Regions from separate parts of the Homo sapiens genome. Here all the other regions are reported to be linked to region 7. The links are microRNA targets in miRTarBase. Many come from high-throughput screens and were not tested one by one. Region 7 holds a microRNA gene; each other region holds the end of a gene's coding sequence.
The links. Region 7 holds the annotated microRNA hsa-miR-548ab (AAAAGUAAUUGUGGAUUUUGCU, at 2,419-2,440, opposite strand). A microRNA usually pairs through its seed, bases 2 to 8, with sites in the 3' UTR of a target mRNA and lowers its output. Matches are read on the target gene's strand: a 7mer-m8 pairs with bases 2 to 8, a 7mer-A1 pairs with bases 2 to 7 and ends in A, and an 8mer does both.

Region 1 (4,081 bases), not on the chromosome of region 7:
CTCCTCATTAGTTAATGTATCTCCAACTCACAATTTTTCTCTCAGTCCCTCTACACTACTAAATCCCACTGAGCTAAACCGCGACATTGCCGATAGCCAACCAATGTCTGCACCGGTGGCAAGCAAATCTACTGTGACATCTGTCAGCAACACTAACTATGCAACTCTTCAGAACTGCTCCCTTATTACTGGTCAAGACCTATTGTCAGTCCCTATGACTCAGGCTGCCCTTGGGGAAATAGTTCCTACAGCTGAAGATCAGGTAGGTCACCCCTCCCCAGCAGTACATCAGGATTTTGTCCAAGAACATCGTTTGGTTCTGCAATCGGTAGCTAACATGAAAGAGAATTTCTTATCAAATTCTGAGAGCAAAGCAACAAGTAGCTTAATGATGCTGGACTCTAAATCCAAGTATGTCTTAGATGGCATGGTTGATACTGTCTGTGAAGACCTGGAAACAGACAAAAAAGAGCTTGCCAAGCTCCAGACTGTCCAGCTGGATGAAGATATGCAAGACTTATGAACTTTATTTCCTCCTCACCTCTTTTTGGCATCAGCGGCAAATCTTTTCATGAAGCCCCAAGGACACAAAACATTTTCCCATTTAAAGGAAAACACTCTAGTTTTGCAAGTATATGCATACAAGAGACTTTAGATTGATCTGCATGAAGATCACAGTTAAGTATACAGGAGTAGAACTGCATTATTGCAGCCTTTTTGTTCACTTATAAATTTCTCTTTTAAATAGATGGAGACAAAGGACAAGGTGAAATGTATCAAGTCAAAGTGAATCATTTAGTTGACTCTATAATTCTAAGGTCAAAATGGAACTTGATAGTTTTTTAAATTAAAAAATGTATACACCTAACATAGAAAATTAAAGATAGCTGCAGACCATTAGAAATAATACAATTGTTTTTGTTTACTTTTACTCCATGGGCATTGAAAAGGTTAAGAAACATAAATGGTACATATTTTTAAAGTTAAGTAGCATGCATATATATATGCACACACACCTCTTTTTCAGCATTTTTTGAGAAAGTCTTGGGTCTCAAACACATTTGTCTCAACACATTTCCAAATGTGATTTCTAATAGCTCAGTGTGGCTGAGAAAGTGCGGAACTCCACTAAAAACTCTGAAACTTCAGTATAAATGTAAATATATCAGTTCTATAAGCAGGATTTGAGTAATTACAGTGAATTTTATTTTTAATGTATATGTTTCTCTTCAGGCGCTATGAACTGAAAAATATGTTTTCTTACTGTTTAATTTATTTTTATTGTTTGAACAGGAAGTGAACATAGTCGTTTCCAACAAAGTTTTACTTTTTGTAGGATTTTAAAAATAATGATTTTTACCAGGAATCTATTAAGGTCAATATTAATAACACTGAAACAGGAAATCTAACTCCCAATATTGGAATTTTGGTACTTTTTTTCACATCCTTGTTCTTTATTTAGCAACTCTGATTCATTTAAATATGTTTTTTATAGAATTCTATGTGCCTTTTTACCTCGTGGCCTTTTTATTGGTAGTAAGGTACAGAAGTGTCAACAGAAGCACTGATGGTTCTTTTCTACTATCTAACAGGGTTAATTTCACCACAAAATTGCTTTAAATCTGAAGAACTTAAGTTTCACTAAATAATATATATGACATTTATCACACAAATGGATAAACAACTAATTATTGTTGATACTTTTCATTACAAGGAAAATAAGTTATAAATACCATGTCAAATTGATTATACAGGCTATGAAAACCATTTTAAAGGAAAGAAAATATGTAAATTCTATTGAGCAAAATTCTGTCCTGTTGAAACTTAGTTCTAAAGGTTTTGAATCAGTTGTTACACTCTGACACATGACTGTTGTTTGCACTATATTATCATGTCTTCTTTAAAAGTAAATATTTTTGGTTTCTGTAAGAAGCTTGTTTAATAATGTTGTAAGCCGTGGCTATAGTTTTATCAAGACTCTGAACACAAGATGTAACAATGCAAATAAATTTATGTAGTGAGTAAAGTTGCTCTCTAGTCTCTGAAAAGCAAAAAAAGTGAGAAAATAATTTCTTCAGAGATAACTTCAAGTTGTTGAACATAAAGGTGTTAGATGTTAGCACATCTTGCTTTTTTTTTTTTTTTGAGATGGAGTCTCGCTCTGTTGCCCAGGCTGGAGTGCAGTGGCACGATCTTGGCTCACTGCAAGCTCTGCCTCCTGGGTTCACGCCATTCTCCTGCCTCAGCCTCCCGAGTAGCTGGGACTACAGGCACCTGCCACCATGCCCGGCTAAATTTTTGTATTTTTAGTAGAGACGGGGTTTCACCGTGTTAGCCAGGATGGTCTTGATCTCCTGACCTCGTGATCTGCCCGCCTCGGCCTCCCAAAGTGCTGGGATTATAGGCATGAGCCACTGTGCCTGGCCACATCTTGCTTTTTTTTTTATGATCAGAACAAAGGGCCCACTCTAGTTCTCTACATGTCAATCAATCAAGCATGTTGAATAAGGGACATAGAGGATTTAACTTTTGTTATCATAAATGGAACTTGCAGGCATATATCAAGAACCCTATGAAGAATTCCTCTCCCATCATTTTGATAAAGAACTACATCATTTTTGATAGAATTGGTGAATGTTCCTAAACTGCTGAAGCTACATGTTTTTTGTTTTGTTTTACAAAGTCAGGTGTTTGAGAGTTCTTTTCCACTCTACTACTACTCATAGAGCTTGTTTTTTCTTTGGGTGTGTGCTGATCCTGTTACTGAGATTAATTACATGGCTCTGCAGTGTAGTTTACATAAAAATGATGTTTTCCACTTGATTGCTGCAGATATCAAGAGTTTGTTATTTTCAAATACCCATCCAACAAGAGAGATGGGGAGGTTTTTAGTTATATATGCTATATATATATATATAACTGGAAATGTTTTATATGTTTTCCGAAAATACAATAAGCCTCTCTTTTATTCAGTGTTCTTCCTCTTTTCTCCCTTATGAAAAAGAAAAGATAGCACAAAACTTAAGACTTACCTAGGAAACCCATTCATATTCCCACCATGATGTAATTATAACCCTACAATTACTTCAGGTAGCTACACAATATACCAGGTAAGAATCAATGCACAGTATAAAGAACTTATTGTTCTTTTCTATTCTTTCAGTTGAATAAGGGCCAGTTGGTATGCAGCCCATGTATATGTGAATGGAGTAAGATAAACCCCATGATCTCCTTGCACAGAATTGCAAATGTCTTTTGCCATACCAAGGGCCAGACTCAGAACCCTTGGAGTCATGTGGCAGAATTTCCCTCTTACATAAACCAATGCTTGAAAATGCTGCAAATGACCCTCTAATGATCCCTGAAGATCAAAACAGGGGTAAATGACTCCCTGCAAAACCCAACCCATGCTGCTGGCTGTGGGATTTTTGGTGTAAGCCTATCTATGCACTCTATCAGCCAGAATTTGGCATTTAGCTCTTAGTTAAATCTAGTAAAGGACAGTCTATTGTTTAAAGAGAAGGTGCATTTGTTCCTCAATCAAGCAAGAGCACCTGTGTTGTACTGCTTTATATCTCATGTATATTTATAGTAATGAAAAGACTTTTTAAATTGTACACGTTTCAGTGCCTTTCTTGTGTTATGAAAGGCAGGTAGATATTATAGCCATAGGTAAAAATCCATAGTTAAATTGCACACTGACCTTAAATCTCTCTGTGTATGCCCTTGTATCTTGCATGTTAAAAGTTGGATTATTGGGCATGTGTGGCAGCCTGCCCTGCTACATGCTAGACAAGTGTGCTTTAGTACATAGCCACAAGTTCTTCATTCTTTAAAATGTTTTGACAGATCATCTCATAATAAAAATAATTCAGGAAAACTATGGGGAAATAGTTACATTTCACAAAAGATATTTTAAACTCTTTGTAAAACTTAGATAATAGAGCCTAGCAGTTACTTTGTATCTAATTGATACATTTTATGTTAATTTACCACCATACATTTTATTAATCAAAATTGTATAGCATGTGACTCTTTTGGCTTTCAGAGTTCTCAAAAATATTATTTTGTTGCATGTACT
Region 2 (4,000 bases), not on the chromosome of region 7:
TGGAAGGCTCTGATTGGCAGAGCGTTGGTGGCAGTCACATGGAAACTAGCTGTCTTGGGCAGAGGGGCTTTTTGCAGTTTTCAAGGGCACTCTGTTTTTCTCCATGCTGACCCGCTTTAGCAGCCCAGTTTCCAGAGTCTCTTCAACGCATTGATTAGTCCAGGCGCCTCAGGCACACCCAACGCTGATTTGTCCCCCCAGGTCGCCATGGGCTACTCACACTCCTTGGTGATAGCAAGAGATGAAAGTGAGACTGAGAAAGAGAAGATCAAGAAACTGCCAGAATACAACCCCCGAACCCTCTGATGCTCCCGGAGACTCCTCCGACTCCACACCTCTCGCGGCAGCTGTCATTTCCATGTGCACTGGGACGGGAAGTCAAACGAGGAATTTAAAAAAGCAAAAGTTGACCGAAGGTGCATTTTTGTTTAGACTCCCTGAGGTTCCGTTTTACACATGATCCAACGTTAACTACCTTTTTTTCTGTATGCTTTCCAAAGTCCTTTTTTTTCCCTTAATGTTGAATTAAAATACTTGCTCATAGTTGATTTACCATTCCTACAAAAGAGGCAGAAACTTTGAGCAATCTAGGTTTTTTTTTTTTTTAAGTTTTTTCTTTCTTCCTCTCCTGAATACACTCCCCAAAACACCCCTTTCCAGTTACAATTAGCATCGTGATCCAAGCAGATGCCACATGGAAGAGGAATCGCCATTTACTCAGAAAAAATGTCCCTTACAGGAACCGGCAGCAGCTAGGCAGTCACCGGCCCGCCTCCATCCAAAATCACGCTCGCGTGCTTCGGAAGCATCCGGGTCACTCCTTCTCCGCTTTTTCTTGCAGATGGGCCTAGGCCGGTGTCGGTTCTGTTTCTCCCCTTGGCTGCCTGTACGCCCACAGCCTTCTGGCTGCGACATTATAGAATCGGCCGTGTCCCCCCTGGTGGGGGATTGGGGATCTGTGTTTAGCCATTTATATCTACTTTAGCTGTTAAAGAGGTCCAAATGAAAATCAGGTGATTGTGGAACCATGGGGACTTGGGGGTGGGGCAGAGGTGGGAACATTTGTATCAGTTGAGTCAGCTTGGTGGCTCCCTGTGGAGCCAGGGCTGAGCCTTGTCACGCGCACTCGCCAATTAAGAGATGGACCAGCCAGCAGTCAAGTGCATTCTCCAGTCCTTGCAAGAAGGATCAGCCCTTTCTGTGCCAGCCTCGATCGCCTTGTGCTTTGGTCTCTTTTTCTCCCCCCCGCCTGGATCCTGCCTCGCGCGGGCCGTCCTGTTGCTGAGACTCGGGGTACCGTTCTGCTGACCCAGCTCCCTTTAGTCACGTTTGCTTGGCTCTGGTACCAAATAGTTGGGATTACCGAAGAGTCCCCTTCCTTGCGTGTCAGCACGGATGCTGTGACTGCCACCTGCGTCCTCGTCAAGTGCCCGAGCTCGCCGCCGTGTGTGCTGCGCTGAGTGAGTTATGAGGTGCCTTTCCCGGAACCCTCCTCTCGCCTGGACCCAAGAGAGGCGACAGCTGTGGCTGGGGCTCTTGGTTTCCAGAGGGTCTGGACTGGTTTGGGTGCTTTAAAATAGATATTTAGTTCAGTGGTGCTTATGGGGGAGATGGGACTAGAACTTAAGTGTGAGACTTGGGTGGATGGGAAAGTTAAATATTGGTCTCTTCAAGTTTTTTTTTTCTTTTGCTTTGTTACCACTTGTCACTGTCTCCATGTTAAAATGCCAAAAATGATGTAGTTGTTGTTGCTTTTTTCCCTATTTTCCACCCCAGTCGCTCCTTACCGTGACTCCTGCCCTTGGAGGGCATGTAGCAGTGTCTGTCCTGCCAGTCCCAAGGCCCTGTGGGAGGAGACTGGCCTGCATCTCTCTAAGACTTAGTCTGACGCCACGCGCATCTCTTGTTCTGTGTTCAATCAGTAGTCCAGGGGAGAAGCTTCTGCTACTTCAGAGCTTTGCTAAACTAACCTAATTTGTCCAAATCACCCCAAAACCACCATCTCTGACGTAAGCTTCCATGCGACAGCCTGATCCGTTTCCCTGGACAGGTCTCTTTCCTGGAATGCAGCCCAGGCACCTGTGCTCCTGGCACCCTTGAGGTCTCTCCTTTGAGCCGTGGTCACCGAGAGGGTTGAGGACGCAGCACCCGAGGTCCCAGCCTTTGCAGGAGCCTCCCTGGGCTTAGCTGGACTTAGATCTTCGGTGGCCTCATGTAAACGTGGCAGCCAGCCTCTTCTAGAACCCTAGCCCAGGGACTGGAGCAGGAAAGGGACCTTCAAAGTGAAGACTGCCTTGTCCCGCAGCTCCTTCTGGCTTAGATTGAAAAATGGGCTTCCTAATGGGTTAAATCCTTTAAAACAAGGAGTTGTGGGGGAAGGGTGTCGTGCACTCCTAGAGAAAGGTACACAGTTGCCCGGTTGGGAATGTGCTTGGCGCTGACCCTGCGGGCATCTGACTGGTCTTCCAGCTCAGGAAAAAGAATTTGAAAGAGGCTTAGCGTGAAGGGGAATCAAAGAGGAGGTTGTGATTTGGTCGAAGGTGCCTGGTTTAGTGCTGTAATTGTCTTATTATTTTTTTTATATATATATTTCTTGGAGTAAACATTTTAAATAAACAACAACATTGTCTACTGTCTTGGATTTTGCATTTCTTTTTCGGTTGGAACGGAGCTCTGTTTTTCTTAACTCCTTATATGTGTACCTCCTAAGCCCTGGCACCCACAGAAGGTGGTGCCAGGAGACATGTGGCCCCAGGGGAGCTTCCAGGTTTAAACTGCACTGGTTGAAGTGAGTGGATCCCCCAACTCTGCCCCATGAAATGCTAGGGGAGTGGGACAGAGTCAGTACCTCAGTTGTCCAATTCAGAAGTGGAGTTCTTTGCATTTTCACTGGGGCTTTGAGAGGAAAAAAATAAGTCATGGGAGGCATCCAGCGCGGTGACTGCATGTGCACCCACTCCCCAGACTTCAGCAGGGGGCTCTGGTCAGGCCCCGGCTGTGGCTTCAGGCCAGTGCTGCTCTGTGCAGGCATTGTGGCCAACTGCCCACCAGAGGGCACCAGGAGGCTGGTCGTAGGTTCAGAGATCACGGACACTCTCCCTTCTAGGCTGCTGCTGAGTCTATACCGGGCAGAGTCCTAGACCAGACCCTTGCACAGGACACCGGCTCCCTGCAGCCGCAAAGATGCCTGGGATCCCTGGAACCTCGAGTGCAGGCCACCTTGTGTTGACTGGCTGAATAGTGTCCAGACCAGCCCCTCCTGGCAGGCATTGGCCCAGTTTGGGAGAGGAGGAAACGGTCTCCCATGGCCTGTTAGCTGCAGAAGGAGCATGTGCACTGTTGCAGGACAGTCCAAATGTAAAACACGGTGTTTCCCCATCTCCCCCCTTGGCAGCTTGGAGCTTCCCATCAGATGCTCCTGCCCTGGAAGAGCCCCCGTGGGCAGGGAAGCCACTGCTGGGGGCAGCGTCCCTGCTGACACACTGGCTGTTGTGTATTGGGCACATGCTGCAAATTGAGTGTCGTGTGTCTCGCCCCTGACTCCTGCAGTCCACTCCGACAGTCTTTTTGGAGACTGAGTTTCTTTCACCCAGGCTGGAGTGCAGTGGCATAATCGCAGCTCACTGCAACCTCTGCCTCCTGGGTTCAAGCGATTCTCCTGCCTCAGCCTCCTGAGTAGCTGGGATTACAGGTGTCCACCACATGCCTGGCTAATTTTTGTATTTTTAGTAGAGATGGGGTTTCACCATGTTGTCCAGGCTGGTCCCGAACTCCTGACCTCGTGATCCTCCCACCTTGGCCGCCTCCCAAAGTGCTGGGATTACAGGCATGAGCCACCGCGCTCGGTCTTGTATTTTTGAGATGGAGCTTTGCTCTGTCGCCCAGGCTGGAGTGCAGTGGTGTGATCTCTGCTTACTGCAACCTCTGCCTCCTGGGTTCAAGCAATTCTGCCTCGGCCTCCTGAGTAGCTGGGATTACAGGCAAGTGCCACCACGCCCTG
Region 3 (4,081 bases), not on the chromosome of region 7:
TAGAAGTTTCATGATTCTCATATTCACCCGGAAAGATGACTTAGGTGACACCAATTTGCATGACTACTTAAGGGAAGCTCCAGAAGACATTCAAGACTTGATGGACATTTTCGGTGACCGCTACTGTGCGTTAAACAACAAGGCAACAGGCGCTGAGCAGGAGGCCCAGAGGGCACAGTTGCTGGGCCTGATCCAGCGCGTGGTGAGGGAGAACAAGGAAGGCTGCTACACTAATAGGATGTACCAAAGGGCGGAGGAGGAGATCCAGAAGCAAACACAAGCAATGCAAGAACTCCACAGAGTGGAGCTGGAGAGAGAGAAAGCGCGGATAAGAGAGGAGTATGAAGAGAAAATCAGAAAGCTGGAAGATAAAGTGGAGCAGGAAAAGAGAAAGAAGCAAATGGAGAAGAAACTAGCAGAACAGGAGGCTCACTATGCTGTAAGGCAGCAAAGGGCAAGAACGGAAGTGGAGAGTAAGGATGGGATACTTGAATTAATCATGACAGCGTTACAGATTGCTTCCTTTATTTTGTTACGTCTGTTCGCGGAAGATTAAACTTAATGAAAATCTGTTTGTATTTTCTGCATATTCTCTGGCAACCTTGCCCCATACTTACTTATTTAGCATAGTCGAGTGCTCTAGTTTCTGTCTCTCAGGCACTCGTAACTAAGGACCACCATTGGCCATTGGTAGATGTTTGATTGACTTAACAAGAGAGGGACAAATTTTCAATTTGTGAAACTCCAAAGCAGAAAGTATTGGTGCTTGCTACCTTGTGAATTCTTCCTTAGACATGCAGAGAAAATGTATGCAAGAGACCAAAAAGATGGCTCCAAGCTATGTCATGTTACCTGTAATAAAATCTTTTCTTCTAGATTCTTTCTATGTTGGCAGATAATCTCCCCTTGTAGCTTCCACTCACTTATTCTTGCATTCAGAGTCACAATGATCATCTTACCCATGTGGTTTTTGAGAAAGAAAGATCAATTCTTTGTTTGCAGTAGGTAATCTTAGAGATGGAGATGATTGTAGAATTATTCCTAGATGAGTGTCAATTTATTTAATTCCATTGTCATATAAGGAGTCAAATTGTTTCTTATCATTTGTTCATTGAAGAACAGAGACCTGTCTGGAAAATCGATCTCTACAAATTCAATTAAATAATGATCCCCAAATGCTGAAAAAGTGAAATACAGCAATTCAACAGATAATAGAGCAATGTTTAGTATATTCAGCTGTATCTGTAGAAACTCTTTGACGAACCTCAATTTAACCAATTTGATGAATACCCAGTTCTCTTCTTTTCTAGAGAAAGATAGTTGCAACCTCACCTCCCTCACTCAACACTTTGAATACTTATTGTTTGGCAGGTCATCCACACACTTCTGCCCCCACTGCATTGAATTTTTTGCTTATGTTGTTTATAATAAAACTTTTCAATTATCTCATATTTGTGCAGAATTGGAACCTGTTTTGTCTTGGAAAATACTACTGCTACTTCTAATAATACAGGGATGAATTTCACTTTATGGTAAGAGTTCAAGATGATTTTGGAGCTAGACTTTGTCTACCCTCATGACATCTCCCCTTCCCCCTTTCCCTAGAAGATTTGAGCCACAATCTCAACCCATTTATCAGCCAAAGACCACAACTTCCTTGGATCTTCATTATGTGCTGATGGAAATTATGAGTAACCAAGGTTTCTGAGACCTGTGTAGTTTTGTTGGTGCAAAAATTCCCTTTACTATAGAGATAGCGATAGTTGAAGTTCCTATCCCTTTTCTACTTTTCTACTGGGCTCTCCTCACCTAATAATTTCTAGAAATCCTGAAAGCGTGTTTTCATGTTCTACCAGTATGTCCTAGAGGTCACATGTGATTATGCCAACATTCCATGTTCTGCCATCTTGAAATTGGCTTCTCCATGCCCTAAATCATTTTGCCCAAAATAGGATATACATTTCCTTTTTTTTAAATTTTATTATTATTATACTTTAAGTTTTAGGGTACATGTGCACAATGTGCAGGTTTGTTACATATGTATGCATGTGCCATGCTGGTGTGCTGCACCCATTAACTTGTCATTTAGCATTAGGTATATCGCCTAATGCTATCCCTCACCCCTCCCCCCACCCCACAACAAGCCCCGGTGTGTGATGTTCCCCACCCTGTGTCCATGTGTTCTCATTGTTCAATTCCCACCTATGAGTGAGAATATGGGGTGTTTGGTTTTTTGTCCTTGCAATAGTTTGCTGAGAATGATGGTTTCCAGTTTCATCCATGTCCCTACAAAGGACATGAACTCATCATTTTTATGGCTGCATAGTATTCCATGGTGTATATGTGCCACATTTTCTTAATCCAGTCTATCGTTGTTGGACATTTGGGTTGGTTCCAAGTCTTTGCTATTGTGAACAGTGCTGCAATAAACATACGTGTGCATGTGTCTTTATAGCAGCATGATTTATAATCCTTTGGGTATATACCTAGTAATGGGCTGGCTGGGTCAAATAGTATTTCTAGTTCAAGATCCCTGAGGAATCGCCACATTGACTTCCACGATGGTTGAACTAGTTTACAGTCCCACCAACAGTGTAAAAGTGTTCCTATTTCTCCACATCCTCTCCAGCACCTGTTGTTTCCTGACTTTTTAATGATCGCCATTCTAACTGGTGTGAGATGGTATCTCATTGTGGTTTTGATTTGCATTTCTCTGATGGCCACTGATGATGAGCATTTTTTCACGTGTTTTTTGGCTGCATAAACGTCTTCCTTTGAGAATTGTCTGTTCATATCCTTTGCCCACTTTTTGATGGGTTTGTTTTTTTCTTGTAAATTTGTTTGAGTTCATTGTAGATTTTGGATATTAGCCCTTTGTCAGATGAGTAGGTTGCAAAGATTTTCCCCCATTTTGTAGGTTGCCTGCTCACTCTGATGGTAGTTTCTTTTGCTGTGCAGAAGTTCTTTAGTTTAATTAGATCCCATTTGTAAATTTTGACTTTTGTTGCCATTGCTTTTGGTATTTTAAACATGAAGTCCTTGACCATGACTATGTCCTGAATGGTATTGCCTAAGTTTTCTTCTAGGGTTTTTATGGTTTTAGGTCTAACATGTAAGTCTTTAATCCATCTTGAATTAATTTTTGTATCAGGTGTAAGGAAAGGATCCAGTTTCAGCTTTCTATTTATGGCTAGCCAGTATTCCCAGCACCATTTATTAAATAGGGAATCATTTCCCCATTGCTTGTTTTTGTCAGGTTTGTCAAAGATCAGATGGTTGTAGATATGCAGCATTATTTCTGAGGGCTCTGTTCTGTTCCATCGATCTATATCTCTGTTTTGGTACCACTACCATGCTGTTTTGGTTACTGTAGCCTTGTAGTATAGTTTGAAGTCAGGTAACATTATGCCTCCAGCTTTGTTCTTTTGGCTGAGGATTGACTTGGTGATGCAGACTCTTTTTTGGTTCCGTATGAAGTTTAAAGTAGTTTTTTCCAATTCTGTGAAGAAAGTCATTGGTAGCTTGATGGGGATGGCATTAAATCTATAAATTACCTTGGGCAGTATGGCCATTTTCACGATATTGATTCTTCCTACCCATGAGCATGGAATGTTCTTCCATATCTTTGTGTCATCTTTTATTTCATTGAGCAGTGATTTGTAGTTCTCCTTCAAGAGGTCCTTCACATCCCTTGTAAGTCGTATTCCTAGGTATTTTATTCTCTTTGAAGCAATTGTGAATGGGAGTTCACTCATGATTTGGCTCTCTGTCTGTTATTGGTGTATAAGAATGCTTGTGATTTTTGCTCATTGATTTGGTATCCTGAGACTTTGCTGAAGTTGCCTATCAGCTTAAGGAGATTTTGGGCTGAGACGATGGGGTTTTCCAGATATACAATCATGTCATCTGCAAACAGGGACAATTTGACTTCCTCTTTTCCTAACTGAATACCCTTTATTTCCGTCTCCTGCCTGATTGCCCTGGCCAGAACTTCTAACACTATGTTGAATAGGAGTGGTGAGAGAGGGCATCCCTGCCTTGTGCCAGTTTTCAAAGGGAATGCTTCCAGTTTTTGTCCATT
Region 4 (4,081 bases), not on the chromosome of region 7:
ATATAATTTTTCAAGGGCTTTTTTATTTTTTTCATGACTCCTTTAGTGCTCAGCACATAATAGCAATCAAGCTGTTATTGGATATCTGAACAATGTTGAAGCAAAAGTAAACTTGGCATTGTTATTTTGTTATCTGTGAGTTGTTTGACCTGATATAAATTCTAGGTATCAGTTTAGGTCAGTCAGGAGCGCTTTTCTTTCCCTGTGCATTTCTCTGTGCTCATATGATACAGCCCTGATGTTAGCTTTTCAAAAAGGACTTTGTTATCTCTGTGTGTTTCCACTAGGTGATACTATCAACCAAAGCACCCTGCCCTCACAGCAGAACCGTTTCCCAGACTACCTTGAAGCCATTCCTGGGACAAATGTGGACCTTGGAACACTGGAAGGAGATGGAATGAACATAGAAGGAGAGGAGCTGATGCCAAGTCTGCAGGAAGCTTTGAGTTCTGACATCCTTAATGACATGGAGTCTGTTTTGGCTGCCACCAAGCTAGATAAAGAAAGCTTTCTTACATGGTTATAGAGCCCTCAGGCAGACTGAATTCTAAATCTGTGAAGGATCTAAGGAGACACATGCACCGGAAATTTCCATAAGCCAGTTGCAGTTTTCAGGCTAATACAGAAAAAGATGAACAAACGTCCAGCAAGATACTTTAATCCTCTATTTTGCTCTTCCTTGTCCATTGCTGCTGTTAATGTATTGCTGACCTCTTTCACAGTTGGCTCTAAAGAATCAAAAGAAAAAAACTTTTTATTTCTTTTGCTATTAAAACTACTGTTCATTTTGGGGGCTGGGGGAAGTGAGCCTGTTTGGATGATGGATGCCATTCCTTTTGCCCAGTTAAATGTTCACCAATCATTTTAACTAAATACTCAGACTTAGAAGTCAGATGCTTCATGTCACAGCATTTAGTTTGTTCAACAGTTGTTTCTTCAGCTTCCTTTGTCCAGTGGAAAAACATGATTTACTGGTCTGACAAGCCAAAAATGTTATATCTGATATTAAATACTTAATGCTGATTTGAAGAGATAGCTGAAACCAAGGCTGAAGACTGTTTTACTTTCAGTATTTTCTTTTCCTCCTAGTGCTATCATTAGTCACATAATGACCTTGATTTTATTTTAGGAGCTTATAAGGCATGAGACAATTTCCATATAAATATATTAATTATTGCCACATACTCTAATATAGATTTTGGTGGATAATTTTGTGGGTGTGCATTTTGTTCTGTTTTGTTGGGTTTTTTGTTTTTTTTGTTTTTGGCAGGGTCGGTGGGGGGGTTGGTTGGTTGGTTGGTTTTGTCGGAACCTAGGCAAATGACCATATTAGTGAATCTGTTAATAGTTGTAGCTTGGGATGGTTATTGTAGTTGTTTTGGTAAAATCTTCATTTCCTGGTTTTTTTTACCACCTTATTTAAATCTCGATTATCTGCTCTCTCTTTTATATACATACACACACCCAAACATAACATTTATAATAGTGTGGTAGTGGAATGTATCCTTTTTTAGGTTTCCCTGCTTTCCAGTTAATTTTTAAAATGGTAGCGCTTTGTATGCATTTAGAATACATGACTAGTAGTTTATATTTCACTGGTAGTTTAAATCTGGTTGGGGCAGTCTGCAGATGTTTGAAGTAGTTTAGTGTTCTAGAAAGAGCTATTACTGTGGATAGTGCCTAGGGGAGTGCTCCACGCCCTCTGGGCATACGGTAGATATTATCTGATGAATTGGAAAGGAGCAAACCAGAAATGGCTTTATTTTCTCCCTTGGACTAATTTTTAAGTCTCGATTGGAATTCAGTGAGTAGGTTCATAATGTGCATGACAGAAATAAGCTTTATAGTGGTTTACCTTCATTTAGCTTTGGAAGTTTTCTTTGCCTTAGTTTTGGAAGTAAATTCTAGTTTGTAGTTCTCATTTGTAATGAACACATTAACGACTAGATTAAAATATTGCCTTCAAGATTGTTCTTACTTACAAGACTTGCTCCTACTTCTATGCTGAAAATTGACCCTGGATAGAATACTATAAGGTTTTGAGTTAGCTGGAAAAGTGATCAGATTAATAAATGTATATTGGTAGTTGAATTTAGCAAAGAAATAGAGATAATCATGATTATACCTTTATTTTTACAGGAAGAGATGATGTAACTAGAGTATGTGTCTACAGGAGTAATAATGGTTTCCAAAGAGTATTTTTTAAAGGAACAAAACGAGCATGAATTAACTCTTCAATATAAGCTATGAAGTAATAGTTGGTTGTGAATTAAAGTGGCACCAGCTAGCACCTCTGTGTTTTAAGGGTCTTTCAATGTTTCTAGAATAAGCCCTTATTTTCAAGGGTTCATAACAGGCATAAAATCTCTTCTCCTGGCAAAAGCTGCTATGAAAAGCCTCAGCTTGGGAAGATAGATTTTTTTCCCCCCAATTACAAAATCTAAGTATTTTGGCCCTTCAATTTGGAGGAGGGCAAAAGTTGGAAGTAAGAAGTTTTATTTTAAGTACTTTCAGTGCTCAAAAAAATGCAATCACTGTGTTGTATATAATAGTTCATAGGTTGATCACTCATAATAATTGACTCTAAGGCTTTTATTAAGAAAACAGCAGAAAGATTAAATCTTGAATTAAGTCTGGGGGGAAATGGCCACTGCAGATGGAGTTTTAGAGTAGTAATGAAATTCTACCTAGAATGCAAAATTGGGTATATGAATTACATAGCATGTTGTTGGGATTTTTTTTAATGTGCAGAAGATCAAAGCTACTTGGAAGGAGTGCCTATAATTTGCCAGTAGCCACAGATTAAGATTATATCTTATATATCAGCAGATTAGCTTTAGCTTAGGGGGAGGGTGGGAAAGTTTGGGGGGGGGGTTGTGAAGATTTAGGGGGACCTTGATAGAGAACTTTATAAACTTCTTTCTCTTTAATAAAGACTTGTCTTACACCGTGCTGCCATTAAAGGCAGCTGTTCTAGAGTTTCAGTCACCTAAGTACACCCACAAAACAATATGAATATGGAGATCTTCCTTTACCCCTCAACTTTAATTTGCCCAGTTATACCTCAGTGTTGTAGCAGTACTGTGATACCTGGCACAGTGCTTTGATCTTACGATGCCCTCTGTACTGACCTGAAGGAGACCTAAGAGTCCTTTCCCTTTTTGAGTTTGAATCATAGCCTTGATGTGGTCTCTTGTTTTATGTCCTTGTTCCTAATGTAAAAGTGCTTAACTGCTTCTTGGTTGTATTGGGTAGCATTGGGATAAGATTTTAACTGGGTATTCTTGAATTGCTTTTACAATAAACCAATTTTATAATCTTTAAATTTATCAACTTTTTACATTTGTGTTATTTTCAGTCAGGGCTTCTTAGATCTACTTATGGTTGATGGAGCACATTGATTTGGAGTTTCAGATCTTCCAAAGCACTATTTGTTGTAATAACTTTTCTAAATGTAGTGCCTTTAAAGGAAAAATGAACACAGGGAAGTGACTTTGCTACAAATAATGTTGCTGTGTTAAGTATTCATATTAAATACATGCCTTCTATATGGAACATGGCAGAAAGACTGAAAAATAACAGTAATTAATTGTGTAATTCAGAATTCATACCAATCAGTGTTGAAACTCAAACATTGCAAAAGTGGGTGGCAATATTCAGTGCTTAACACTTTTCTAGCGTTGGTACATCTGAGAAATGAGTGCTCAGGTGGATTTTATCCTCGCAAGCATGTTGTTATAAGAATTGTGGGTGTGCCTATCATAACAATTGTTTTCTGTATCTTGAAAAAGTATTCTCCACATTTTAAATGTTTTATATTAGAGAATTCTTTAATGCACACTTGTCAAATATATATATATAGTACCAATGTTACCTTTTTATTTTTTGTTTTAGATGTAAGAGCATGCTCATATGTTAGGTACTTACATAAATTGTTACATTATTTTTTCTTATGTAATACCTTTTTGTTTGTTTATGTGGTTCAAATATATTCTTTCCTTAAACTCTTCTTTGTTGTTTTTAACAATTGATATTTGAAACTTTTTTTTTTTTTGGCTTCTTACTGGTCTTCCAATAGAAC
Region 5 (4,081 bases), not on the chromosome of region 7:
AATGTTTTTTTTTTCTCATCTAGCTGAAACTGTTATAACACACGCAGAGATTTTAAAAGCTGCATGAGATGGGCGCGGTGGCTCACACCTGTAATATCGGCATTCTGGGAGGCTAAGGCGGGTGGATCACTTGAACCAGGGAGTTCGAGGCCAGCCTGGGCATCATGGGGAAACCCTGTCTCTACCAAAAATACAAAAACTAGCCGATTGTGGTGGCATGTGCCTGTAATCCCTACTACTTGGGAAGCTGAGGTGGGAGGATTGCTTGAGCCTAGAAACAGAGGTTGCAGTAAGCCATGATCATGCCACTGCCTGGGCGACAAAGCAAGACCCTGTCTCAAAAAATAATAATAATTAACATTTAATTATTAAAAAAACAGCTGCATAAATTTGTTTTTTGTTTTTTTTTGACTTGGAGTCTTGCTCCGTCGCTCAGGCAGGAGTGCAGTGGTGCGATTTTAGCTCAGAAACCTCTGCCTCCCAGGTTCAAGCAATTCTCCTGTCTCAGCCTCCTGAGTAGCTGGGACTACAGGCACCTGCCACCATGCCTGGATAATTTTGTATTTTTAGTAGAGGTGGGGTTTCACCTTGTTGGTCAGGCTGGTCTCGAACTCCTGACCTCAGGTGATCCACCTGCCTCGGCCTCCCATAAAGTGCTGGGATTACACGTGTGAACCACTGCACCTGGCCATAAATTTGACTTTTGGGGCCATCAATTGAAATTATTTCTTCATAATTTTTAAGTCCTATGAGACTCAATGTAGTGTGTTACTTGGGTAGTTTCTCAAATTATGAAACTGTTCTAAAACTACAGAAATGTACTTATGATTTTTCAGATTTAGAATCAATTAATCTTTAATATTGCTAGGTCCTATATTCTAATAGCAATTGTTTGGTGCTTAACTAAAGGCCTTGTACTTTTTTTTTTTTTCTGAGACAAAGTCTCGCTCTGTCGCCCAGGCTGGAGTTCAGTGGTGTGATCTCTGCTCACTGCAACCTCCGCCTCCTGTGTTCAAGCGATTCTCCTGCCCTAGCCTCCCGAGTAGCTGGGACTACAGGTGCATGCCACCAGGCCCAGCTAATTTTTTGTATTTTTAGTAGAGATGGGGTTTCACCATATTAGCTAGGATGGTTTCGATCTCCTAACCTCATGATCCACCTGCCTCGGCCTCCCAAAGTGCTGGGATTACAGGCATGAGCCACAGCACCCAGCAAGGCCTTGTAATTTTTAATAAAACATCTTATTTAGGCTTTTATTCATAATTTTCTAACAATTTCTTCAACTGAAATAATTTCACATTTATCCATTTAAAACTAGTTCTCAGCCAGGCATGGTGGTTCATGCCTATAATCCCAGCACTTTGGGAGGCCAAGGCAGGAAGGCTGTTTGAGCCCAGGAGTCCAATACCAACCTGGGCAACATGGCAAAACCCCATCTCTACAAAAAGATATAAAAACTAGCTGGGTGTGGTGGCATGTACCTGTATTCCCAGCTACTTAGGGGGCTGAGGTGGGAGGACTGCTTGGGCCCAGGAGGAAGAGGCTGCAGTGAGCCACTGCAGTCCAGCTTGGGTGACATAGCAGGACCCTCCCCTCTCCCATCCAAAAAAAAAAAAAACCCTAATTCTTTCATGCAAGAATCTCAGCTATTTTGCTGAGCATGGTGGCTCACTCCTGTAATCCTAGTACTTTGGGAGGCTGAGGCAGGCGCATCACCTGAGGTCAGGAGTTTGAGACCAGCCTGGCCAACAAGGTGGAACCCCGTCTCTATAAAAAATACAAAAAAATTAGCTGGGCATGGTGGCAGACACCTGTAATCCCAGCTACTTGGGAGGCTGAGGCAGGAGAACTGCTTGAACCCAGAAGGTGGAAGTTGCAGTGAGCCGAGATTGCACCACTGTACTCCAGCCTGGGTGACACAAGACTCTGTCTCAAAAAAAAAAAATTAGGCAGGCGTCGTGGCACACTCCTGTAATCCTAGCTACTCGGGAGGCTGAGGCAGGAGAATCACTTGAACCCAGGAAGTGGAGGTTGCAGTGAGCCAAGATTGCGCCATTGCACTCCAGCCTGGGTGACACCACAAGACTCTGTCTCGGGAAAAAAAAAAAGAATCTCAGCTATTTCACATCTGGCCAAACTTACAACCTTAGTTCCTTCTAAAATTGTTTTTAAAAACTCTTGTTAATTCTGATTTTAGGTGACTAAATTTCATTGATTCTTTTTGGCATATGAAATATAATTTACCCAATTCATTTTGCATCTGCTGAAGTCTCAATTTTCCTACTTTGTTTCTTAAATAGCAGCTTGTTTTGCTCTGCCACAGCAAACTGCAATTGCCATTCATTGTCAAATCTGCAACATACCTTCTTTGAGTCTGTTTACTGTTCCAGTTGTACTAGGTTCTGCATCGCCACTTGATTCTTTTTCAGTATGCCTTCATTTTAAATTTAAAAATTTGCTCATATTCATGTGTAAACTAGAAAAATAATTTAATCATGATTAAAATAAGTATTTCAATTACCAGTTATAATTTACACAGGAATCACTGTAATTCCTGTTGTCTGCATAAAATATTCAGATAAACATGATGTTACATCAATTTGTAGAAAAAATAACTTGCATTGAATCCATCTGCTGACAGCAGTATCATATCTATCAGCAATATGTTTATATTCAATATTGGAAATGACACACAAGTTTGACAGGCACACTACAACAACCATATCTTATGCAAGGTAACAGAGTAAAATGTATTACTGAAAAACAGTAAAGCTAAGCAGAAAAATATTTCACATTGTTTCAGTTTTCATATTTAAGTAAAAGTAAATAAATAAAAATTTTACTTTTAGCCCTAAGCTGATCAGCCACATGTAGCTAGTGGCTACCATACTAGATAGCACAGATATGGAAATGAGAAAGACAAGAGCCAAAAGGCTTACAGTTTTTATTCCATTTCTCTTTTATTTAATATAACCTCCAGGGCTTAGAACTTAGCTGAGTCCTGCTATTTTTTGCATCCTTACTTAAAGTAAAACAGTACAAAATTATAAACGGTGTTTGTTCTGTACAGAACTTCATGGAATATGTATTATGACCCACTCTAGCAAACATGGGCCAATCTCTAAAAAACTATAGCTTCTAAAACCAATCTTCAAGATTATCTTCTTAAAGAACGCCTTTTAAACAGCAACATGCTGATAAAAGTTTAACTGGCTTTCCAAAAAAAAAAAAGACCTTTATGTATATAAAGGATGTGTAGTACATAATTTACAGATGACAAAAAACGTATACAATATTCTATTTTAAGTTCCATATAGCCAATTGATTCTCATGGAAGACTTTTGTTGACTTTTGCCGAACTCTTGTATCTGTAGCCAACCTGTGGTTGCAATTTGACCAAGATTTTACAAACGGTGTTGCATCCCAATCTGCTAATTCTTTCCCCAGTAAATTTATTGTCATTAAATCTGATACATGATCTATTGTTAAACTATTTCTCACCCTTGTACAAATTATGTTCATTAAATTGAAACCCCTTTCAGCTTCAGCACTATTGATTGCAATGGTGCTAACTATCTTTTTAGCTTTGTATATAGTTGTAGGAATTGAAACATTGTTTGATTTTATATTATTATTTACAAATTCCCGAAAATCATTCAAATCAACTTCATATTTTAAAATTTTACACAAATGAAATAATGTTTTTTCACCAGCTATCCATGGTGAAGTTATTTCTTCATAAGGCCATGTGGAAGGTTCCAGCAAATCAAAGTAATTAAAAATATCTTCATGGTTTCTGTCAGATAAAAGGCGTAGGTTCATGTGCTGAATTATATTGTCTAGTAATATACTCCTAGGAAGAGCATTAAATTTATTGTTTTTATTAAATGGAATATCTTTAAACTTATCTGACTTGATCAAATCTTCAATTTGAGATTCATACTTTCCAGTACCAATTTTTAAATTTTCCAAAGCTCTTATGGTACGTTTGATCAATTTTTGTGCTTTCTTAATATTAGTTGATCTTGACTGTAATGCAGTTGAAAGTACTGAAAATTCTTCAAGAATGTCAATCATTAAA
Region 6 (4,081 bases), not on the chromosome of region 7:
TTAACAGCTTGAGAAAATCACTGGTGGCTGCTTATTTAAAAGTAAGCAAGGCCAGGTGCAGTGGCTCTTGCTGTAATCCCAGCACTTTGGGAGGCTGAGGCAGGAGGATATCTTGAGACCAGGGGTTTGAGACCAGCCTGGGCAACAGGGTGAGACCCCACCATCTCTACAAAAAATTAGCCAGGTGTGGAGGTGTGCACCTGTAGTCCCAGCTACTCTGGAGACTGAGACAGGAGAATTTTTTTTTTTTTTTTTGGAGACAGAGTCTCGCTCTGTTGCCCAGACTGGAGTGCAATGGCACGATCTCGGCTCACTGCAACTTCCGCCTCCCAGGTTCAAGTGATTCTCCTGCCTCAGCCTCCTGAGTAGCTGGAATTACAAGTGTGACAAGCACATGCCATCACGCCCAGCTAGTTTTTGTATTTTTAATACAGATGGGGTTTTACCATGTTGGTCAGGCTGGTCTCAAACTCCTGACCTCATGATCCGCCCGTCTCGGCCTCCCAAAGTGCTGGGATTACAGGCGTGAGCCACCGCACTGGGCCTGAGACAGGAGAATCTCTTGAGCCCAGGAGCCAGAGGTTGCAGTGAGCCGAGGTCAGGCACTCCAACCTAGGCAACAGACCAAGACTATGCTCAAAAAAAAAAAACAAACAAAACAAAAAGCTGAATTTGTTACTCGATGCTCTGCTGTCTGATTTGTTTGATCCTGCATCATACTTTTGTGATTAATTGCAGTTACCAGGCACTACTGTTAGGAAATGAAACATTGTTCTTATTAATAGCCACAAGTGGATCTACATCACTGACTTTTTTTTTTTTTTTTTTGGAAAGGGAGTCTCGGAGTCTCACTCTGTCGCCCAGGCTGGAATGCAGTGGCGTGATCTTGGCTCACTGCAGCCTCCACCTCCTGGGTTCAAGCAATTCTCCTGCCTCAGCCTCCTGAGTAGGCGGGACTACAGGTGCGTGCCACCACGTCCAGCTAATTTTTTGTATTTTAGTAGAGACGGGGTTTCATCATGTTGCCCAGGCTGGTCTCAAACTCCTCAGATGAGGCAGTCCACCCGCCTTGGCATCCCAAAGTGTTAGGATTACAGGCATGAGCCACCACACCTGGCCTGACCTCTTGAATGCATTGTTTTCTGTTTCTGAGATGGACTGTGAGCACCCCTGGCACCTCGGAGCTTCCTAACTCTGTTTTCCTGGGTCACAACTGGAAACTTTTTAAGACCTTTACCTAACAGGCTACTAATATAATCATTCTGTTTCCTTCCCTACCCAGACCTTCTCTGAACTGGCTGAGTCTTTTGACACCTGGCTTGTTCTCTTGCTAGTAAATTGAAAACCTTTGGCGTATGCTTAAGTTCAATTTGTCTCATATATTTTGTTTTATAGTAAAGGTGTGGGGCCTCCTCTGACCAGTCTGAGAGGAGCAACTTGTAGTGGTAGAAGGACTATAACTATTCAACCATATCTTTGTTAGCCTGGAGAGCTAACAACAAACAAACAAATTTTCCTGATGAGTAAAATATTGATGTTCCACATTTGTATAAGATATTCTTTGAAATGGGAAAATTCCAAATATCAACTACATGGGCACCAAAGCCATGCACTATCAAGATGGTTTTTAAACCTTTTTTTTTTTTTTTGAGATGGAGTCTCACTCTGCTGCCCAGGCTGGAGTGTAATGGCGCAATCTCAGCTCACTGCAAGCTCCACCTCCCGGGTTCATGCCATTCTCCTGCCTCAGCCTCCCGAGTAGCTGGGACTACAGGTGCCCACCACTATGCCCCGCTAATTTTTTGTATTTTTAGTAGAGACGGGGTTTCACCGTGTTAGCCAGGATGGTCTCAATCTCCTGACCTTATGATCCGCCTGCCTCGGCCTCCCAAAGTGCTGGGATCACAGGCGTGAGCCACCGTGCCCGGCCTTTAGGCCTTTAACGATATAAAATCCATTGTCTATCAGAGGGGAACCTTTTCCAGGAAACTGACTCTTGTACATACTTACTTCATTTTGCAGCAATTTCAGATTTAGTATTCGTAGCCCCAGCTCTTTAAGTAAGTATCCCTGGATTAGCCACATGGGTTGTGTCATACACTACCTAGCTGCCTTCATGGCAGCAGGCTTCTGAATACTAGAACCCTTCAACTCAAAGTGTCCTCTGTAATATTTTAACCCTTTTCTTCTATTCATTCATTTGTTGTCATTCATTCTAGAAATAATTCCGTGTCTACTAGTTGACAGGTACAGGATATTGCAGTGAATCCAGCTGATGTAGTCAGCCCTCATGGCACTTCCAGTCTAGTGGACACTTCAACTGCCCTTTCTCATGTCACCTGCTTGTCCTGCGTGAAACCCACGTGCAGCTTCCCAGACCCCTTTTGACATGTCAGTGCCGAGTTCCTGGTTCATCCCCCATCATTTTCCTCTCCCCCAGCCACCAGAGCCTCCCCTCACATACCCTTTTTTTTTCCCAAAGAAGGAGAAGCAGACGAGTTGAAGAGAACTCCATTTTATTATGGAAAGTTAAAAAACAAACAAAACAAAACAGGCAATTGATAAAGGCGGCACAATGGGGAAGGAGAGGTGAGGTGTCTCCTTAGCCACCCGACACCATCTCAATTCAGTTCAATTGTGAACCACTAGGAGAAACAGAATTAAATAACTATCAAGGGGTACAGAGTTAAGAGTTCCAGCCTTCCCTCTTGGGGAAAACTAAGGCAAAGTAATACTGAGAAAAAGTGGAGGAAGCCACACCTTCAGGTCACTCCAATGAGGAGACTGGAGGGGACAGAGGAGAGAATTCCACGCAGACACAGCAAGTAAGCGTGGCTTGTAAACCTGGGACTTTGGCAGGTGGGGCTGGGAGCTGATGGAATTTGTAAACCAGGCTGTGGTCAAGGGAGGAGGCAGGAGCTGTAAACAAAGGGGCAGTGACCTAGGAAATGAAGGAGATGTGCCTATAAATGGAGTGGGGTCTGGGCCTCCCAGAGAGACGAGTGCTTAAATCCCGAGAGTCCCCACGGGATGGTGGGGAGGAAGGCTGTGGGGAGAGTGTACCCTGCCATGGGGGGCAGGTGCTCCATCTCCACCCTCCAGGGAGTTCTGTGCCCCTTCTCAGGACTTGGCGCTCACTCTTGGATGACCTAGGATGCACCAGCACGTTTAACCCCACCCACACCAGGGACTTTGGATTAGGGTAGAAATTGGGCAATTGGCTCTGCCCCCAGAAACAGGGTGGGGAAAGCAAGTTACAAGATGTTGGTTGCCCTTCCCTGCCAGGCTCATTATCAGGGTCTGTCTGCCCTGAATCTTCCGGGCTCCAGGATCTTCAGTTATAAGAAGGAGGGAGGTATATCCCTATGTTGGAAGATGGTCACCGCCGGCAGGACTCATCTGTGGGAGAGGGGGCAATAATGTTAGAGAATGAGTGAGAGCCTCTGCCTTCTGCCCACCCTTCCCCCCCACACAAATTGAAGGGCAGTTGGCATGCAGGAAGTCCTATAATATCTTCCATATCTAAAGCATGTTACCACCAGTAACCACATCCATCACTCATTTAGCTCGGACTCTGTGCCAGGCATCCTTATAACTGTTTAATCTCACCATAACTCCAGGAGAGATTAAGTAATATGATATCCAGCTGTGGCTCTTGGTGCTTCACAAAAAATTACTTAATCTTGGCCTGGAGCACCTGTAATCCAAGCAATTTGGGAGGCTGAGGCAGGAGGATCACTTGAGGTCAGGAGTTCAAGACCAGCCTGACCAACATGGGGAAACCCTGTCTCTACTAAAAATATAAAAACTAGCCAGGTGTGATGGTACACATCTGTAATCCCAGCTACTAGAGAGGCTGAGGCACAAGAATCGCTTGAATTTGGGAGGCAGAGGTTGCAGTGAGCCAAGGTTGTGCCACTGCATTCCAGTCCAGGCGACAGAGGGAGACGCTGTCTCAAAATAAATAAATAAATAAATAAATAAAATTACTTAATATTTTCTACAAGTCTAGGAGGTAGTTTTTGGTTTCTGTTTTTTTGAGACAGAATTTCACTCTGTCACCCAGGCTGGAGTGTAGTGG
Region 7 (4,081 bases):
AATAACAGATGTTGGAGAGGCTGTGGAAAAAAATGACATGCTTACACACTGTTCGTGGTGATGTAAATTAATTCAACCACTGTGGAAAACAGTTTGGAGATTTCTCAAAAATCTTAAAGCAGAACTACTATTTTACATGACAATTTCATTACTGGGTATAAACCCAAAGGAAAATAAATCGTTCTGCCTAAAAGGCATGTTATGACATGTATATGTTCATTGCAGCACTACTCACAATAGCAAAGACATTGAATCAACCTAGGCACCCATGAAAGGTTGACTGGAAAAAGAAAATATGACACATGTACACATGGAATACTACCTAGCCATAAACAAGAATGAAATCATGTCCTTCACACCAATATAGATGCAGTTGCAGGCTAGAATCCTAGGCAATTAACACAGGAACAGAAAACCAAATACTGCATTTCTCACTTATACATGGGAACCAAACACTCAGTACACATGGACATAAAGATGGAAGCAATGGACAATGGGGACTAGTGGAATAAGGAAAGAAAAATGGGGTGAGGCCTGAAAGGACTGCCTATTGGGTGTGCTCACTGGGTGTCAGTGTCATTTGTACATCAAACCTAAGCATCACACAGTGTCCTAATGTGACAGGCCTTCACATATACCCCCTGAATCTAAAATAAAAGTTGAAATTATTTTTTTAAAAAAGAAAATGTGGTATGTATACACACAAGGGACTACTATTCAGCCATGAAAAGGATGAAATGTCATTTGACACAACTTGGATGAACCTGCAGGATATTATGTTAAGTGAAATAAGCTAGGCACAGAAAGACAAACACCTCATTATCTCACCCGTATTTGGAATAAAAAATCTTCATCTCATTGAAGTTGAGAGTAGAACAGTGGTTTCTAGAGCTGAGGAGAGTGGGGTAAGGGGAGATTAGAGGAGGTTGGTCAATAGGTACAATGTTACAGTGAGATAGAAGGAATAATTTCTGGTACTCTTGCATAGTATGGTGACAATAACAATAATGCATAGTGTATTTCAAATAAGTAGAAGAGAGAATTCTGAATATTCTTACAATAAAAAGATAAATATCTATGGTGATGTGTGTGCTAATTATCATGATTTAATGATTATGTGTATATACATATTGAAACATTACATGTATACCATATAAATATGTATAATTATTATGTGACAATAAAATATATTTTCAGATAGTATCATTTCATATATTCAGGGTTAAAATATATTACTAAAATTAATTTTATTTGTTTTCTCTTACTTTTTTAAGTAACTTTTTAAAATTACATGTGTGGCTCTATTTTGGGACTCACATTGTATTTCTGTTGGATGGTAGTTCTCTACAAAACAAAAACAAATAAAAATTGTCATGAACTTCATTACCCCTTGACAGGATAGCAATGTCAGGTAGAAAGCATGGGATGAGGATAGTGCCGTCAGGTAGAAAGCATAGGATGAGGATAGCGCCGTCAGATAGAAAGCATGGGATGAGGATAGCACCGTCAGGTAGAAAGCATGGGATGAGGATAGCGCCCTCAGATAGAAAGCATGGGATGAGGATAGCACCGTCAGGTAGAAAGCATTGCTTCCAAGATGTCTTAGTGATGCAGAGAGCTAATGAGCACAGGGTCCTGGCAAAGCAACCCTGGCTTATCTAACCGTTTCCATTCTTCATATGGGGGTTAAATACTCAGGACAGGAAACAACAGAATTTTACACATTTTATCTTAATTTCTAATGCTGTGTGAGTGTAGAATTCCTTGTATAAGTATGAGAAAACAGAATGTAATTATCAGATATATGAAAACATACAGCAATTCATAAGAAGACACCATGGGAAGAACCAAATCAAATGTCCAAATGTCTTTTTATTAAATAAAATCTCTTCATTCACAAACAAGAAGATCCAATAGAACATTGTATCTATATAGCTAGAAAATGCAGACAAAGAGAAAAAAATGGACCAGGACAGAATGTGTGAAGACAAAAATATTTAAAACTAATATATCAAATATAGTGAAAGCAGAGGTGAATTTTCCAAAGAAATAATAAAGCTTAAGCTTTGGGGGCACCTCCCTAGCCAAGGCTTCTTCTGAGACTCTGGAAGATGTCTTGCAAGTTTGTATTAATGTCTTAATATTTGTTTAAAAAAAAAAGAGAGTCCTCAGTTGTGTAAACATGAGGCTCTGCAATGCCTGTATCAGACCCTGGCACAGTGAAAGGCTAATTGTAATCTGCAATCATATATCTACCTCTACCCACAGATAGTCACTGAACACCTGATTTATATCAGGTAATCTGAGGAAGAGGTGGTGAGCCAATACACTGCTGACCTAGCCCCAATGGAACATGCTTTCTATTAGGTTGGTGCAAAACTAATTGCGGGTTTTGCATTACAAATAAATACAAGTAATAGCAAAATCCACAATTACTTTTGCACCAACATAATGGATGGAAAAAACAGATTATAGACATGTTATTGTAAATAAATAAATAAATAAATAGAGATCTACAGCAAACAAAACTAGTATAAAGAATTCACCCACCCAATATATCGGCTCATTCCATTTCTAATTGCCCAGTATTTAGAATATCCAATTGGGCTTCCAAGATATAATACACAAATAAGTTAATTGATTCAATTTCTCACAGTAGACTATGTGTTAATTTGAGAAATGAACACCATGAGTGATTCTCATAGTTTATGTATGTAAATACAAGTAAACATGAGTGCACAAATACACACAAGTATACACATATATGCACACATAAAGCTTCAATTTTATTATGGGGTTTTGGATATTTCATTTATCTTCTTTGAACTTAACCATGTTTTCAATAATTTGGGTACTAAATTGGTATTATACTTTAATCAAAAGAAATATTATTAAAACCCTAAATTTTCTTCATAAAAAGTATTTTTCCTCTCAAAATGTCCTACTAGAGGAGTAGTGTGAATTTGTAAACATTGCTTGGAGTTGTATAGGTATGCAGGCAGAATTTCATAGACCATATCACAGTTACAAGCTTGCCATGATTCCACAGCCATCTTCACATGCACTATCAATTTGCCTGGCCAGTTGGAAATAATAGATATGGAAGAGAAAGAAGGGTGGTGCTCCTCCTTTTCTGCTTCTCTAATTGACTGTGAAAAATGGATTCCTGCAACAATGTTGATCAAATTTACTCTATTTGATATTATTTACCTGAAGAAGGGGACTTCTTTCAAAAACAAAGGGGAAAATCTAATGCAAAGGTAAATATATCAGCACATATATTAAATATTTTTATTTTATTTACCAAATGGAATAAAAGGAAAAAAGAGGTAGGCTAATGGCACACCGAAGAATAATTGAAAACATGTTTAATCATTTGTTTGTCCACAAAGCAAAGGACAAATGCAAATTTGATTACAAAGAGTGGTGGAAAAGGTAAACAACAGTTTGGAAATTATTTCTAGTTATTCTTCAGAATCAATGAATAAAGAAAAGAAGTATGAAAGTAATAATGAATTAAAATGTGTGTTTCCTTGTTAAAGTGAAATGATTTTGGGGTGCTGAAAGTGAACCCCATATTTCTCCCCACTTTCAGATAATTGCCTGATTTATGGCTACTGATACAATCATTGCCATATCCAGGTTTTAGAGTCAAATAGTTTATGACTCGGTACTGTGTGCTGCCAGGCTAATCTTTCCTGTTGGCAAATCTCCACATGGTTTGACTGAGGGTCACCAGGTAGCTTTCCATGCTCAAAATTTGCCTGCTTTGTAGGTGTCAAATAACCAGACATTCTATTAGGGGGAATTCTTTCCTATGGAATAAAGTATTAAATGCTAATATGAGGAAGTAGAAAAATATAAAAGCACCATCCACATTTAATACATGATTAAAACATACTGAATACTTTCCAAGTGGTTGATAACCAAGAGCAAGAACTCACTTGGAATCGGGGTTACAGCAGATAAGTTTTGATAGGCAACATGTGGAGAGACCAAGAAGTGCCTCAATGTGATGGCAAAGTTGAGATGGAAGAAACATGTCAGGGATAGGATGGGGACCTAACTGTATAAATGAGGA

Region 1: miRTarBase lists SIX4 as a target of hsa-miR-548ab. Seed matches in the 3' UTR shown: 7mer-m8 at 923-929, 7mer-m8 at 1,324-1,330 and 7mer-m8 at 3,955-3,961.
Region 2: miRTarBase lists RCC2 as a target of hsa-miR-548ab. Seed matches in the 3' UTR shown: 7mer-A1 at 978-984.
Region 3: the mRNA of GIMAP4 is a reported target of hsa-miR-548ab. The part of its 3' UTR that is shown has no 7-base or 8-base seed match.
Region 4: miRTarBase lists YAP1 as a target of hsa-miR-548ab. Seed matches in the 3' UTR shown: 7mer-A1 at 653-659 and 7mer-m8 at 1,061-1,067.
Region 5: miRTarBase lists KIAA1586 as a target of hsa-miR-548ab. Seed matches in the 3' UTR shown: 8mer at 3,025-3,032.
Region 6: miRTarBase lists PPP1R18 as a target of hsa-miR-548ab. Seed matches in the 3' UTR shown: 7mer-m8 at 2,726-2,732.

The regions. Positions count from the first base shown.
Region 1 is chr14:60,709,849-60,713,929 of GRCh38, reverse strand. It overlaps SIX4 (SIX homeobox 4), which reads left to right. Exons shown (of 3, transcript NM_017420.5): 3 at 1-4,081. The coding sequence ends at 523. Among named protein-coding and RNA genes, the nearest start is that of SIX4, 12 kb to the left of the region's middle.
Region 2 is chr1:17,405,396-17,409,395 of GRCh38, reverse strand. It overlaps RCC2 (regulator of chromosome condensation 2), which reads left to right. Exons shown (of 13, transcript NM_018715.4): 13 at 202-2,636. The coding sequence ends at 306. It also overlaps RCC2-AS1. Among named protein-coding and RNA genes, the nearest start is that of RCC2, 32 kb to the left of the region's middle.
Region 3 is chr7:150,572,505-150,576,585 of GRCh38, forward strand. GIMAP4 (GTPase, IMAP family member 4) reads left to right here. Exons shown (of 3, transcript NM_018326.3): 3 at 1-1,449. The coding sequence ends at 556. Among named protein-coding and RNA genes, the nearest start is that of GIMAP4, 7.2 kb to the left of the region's middle.
Region 4 is chr11:102,229,415-102,233,495 of GRCh38, forward strand. YAP1 (Yes1 associated transcriptional regulator) reads left to right here. Exons shown (of 9, transcript NM_001130145.3): 9 at 288-4,010. The coding sequence ends at 526. Among named protein-coding and RNA genes, the nearest start is that of BIRC3, 86 kb to the right of the region's middle.
Region 5 is chr6:57,054,080-57,058,160 of GRCh38, reverse strand. KIAA1586 reads right to left here. Exons shown (of 4, transcript NM_020931.4): 4 at 2,936-4,081. The coding sequence ends at 3,298. Among named protein-coding and RNA genes, the nearest start is that of KIAA1586, 9.4 kb to the right of the region's middle.
Region 6 is chr6:30,673,890-30,677,970 of GRCh38, forward strand. PPP1R18 (protein phosphatase 1 regulatory subunit 18) reads right to left here. Exons shown (of 3, transcript NM_133471.4): 3 at 2,500-3,399. The coding sequence ends at 3,380. Among named protein-coding and RNA genes, the nearest start is that of DHX16, 2.9 kb to the left of the region's middle. RefSeq lists a silencer at 1,070-1,209.
Region 7 is chr3:103,521,667-103,525,747 of GRCh38, forward strand. It overlaps MIR548AB (microRNA 548ab), which reads right to left and starts at 2,450; the gene lies at 2,367-2,450.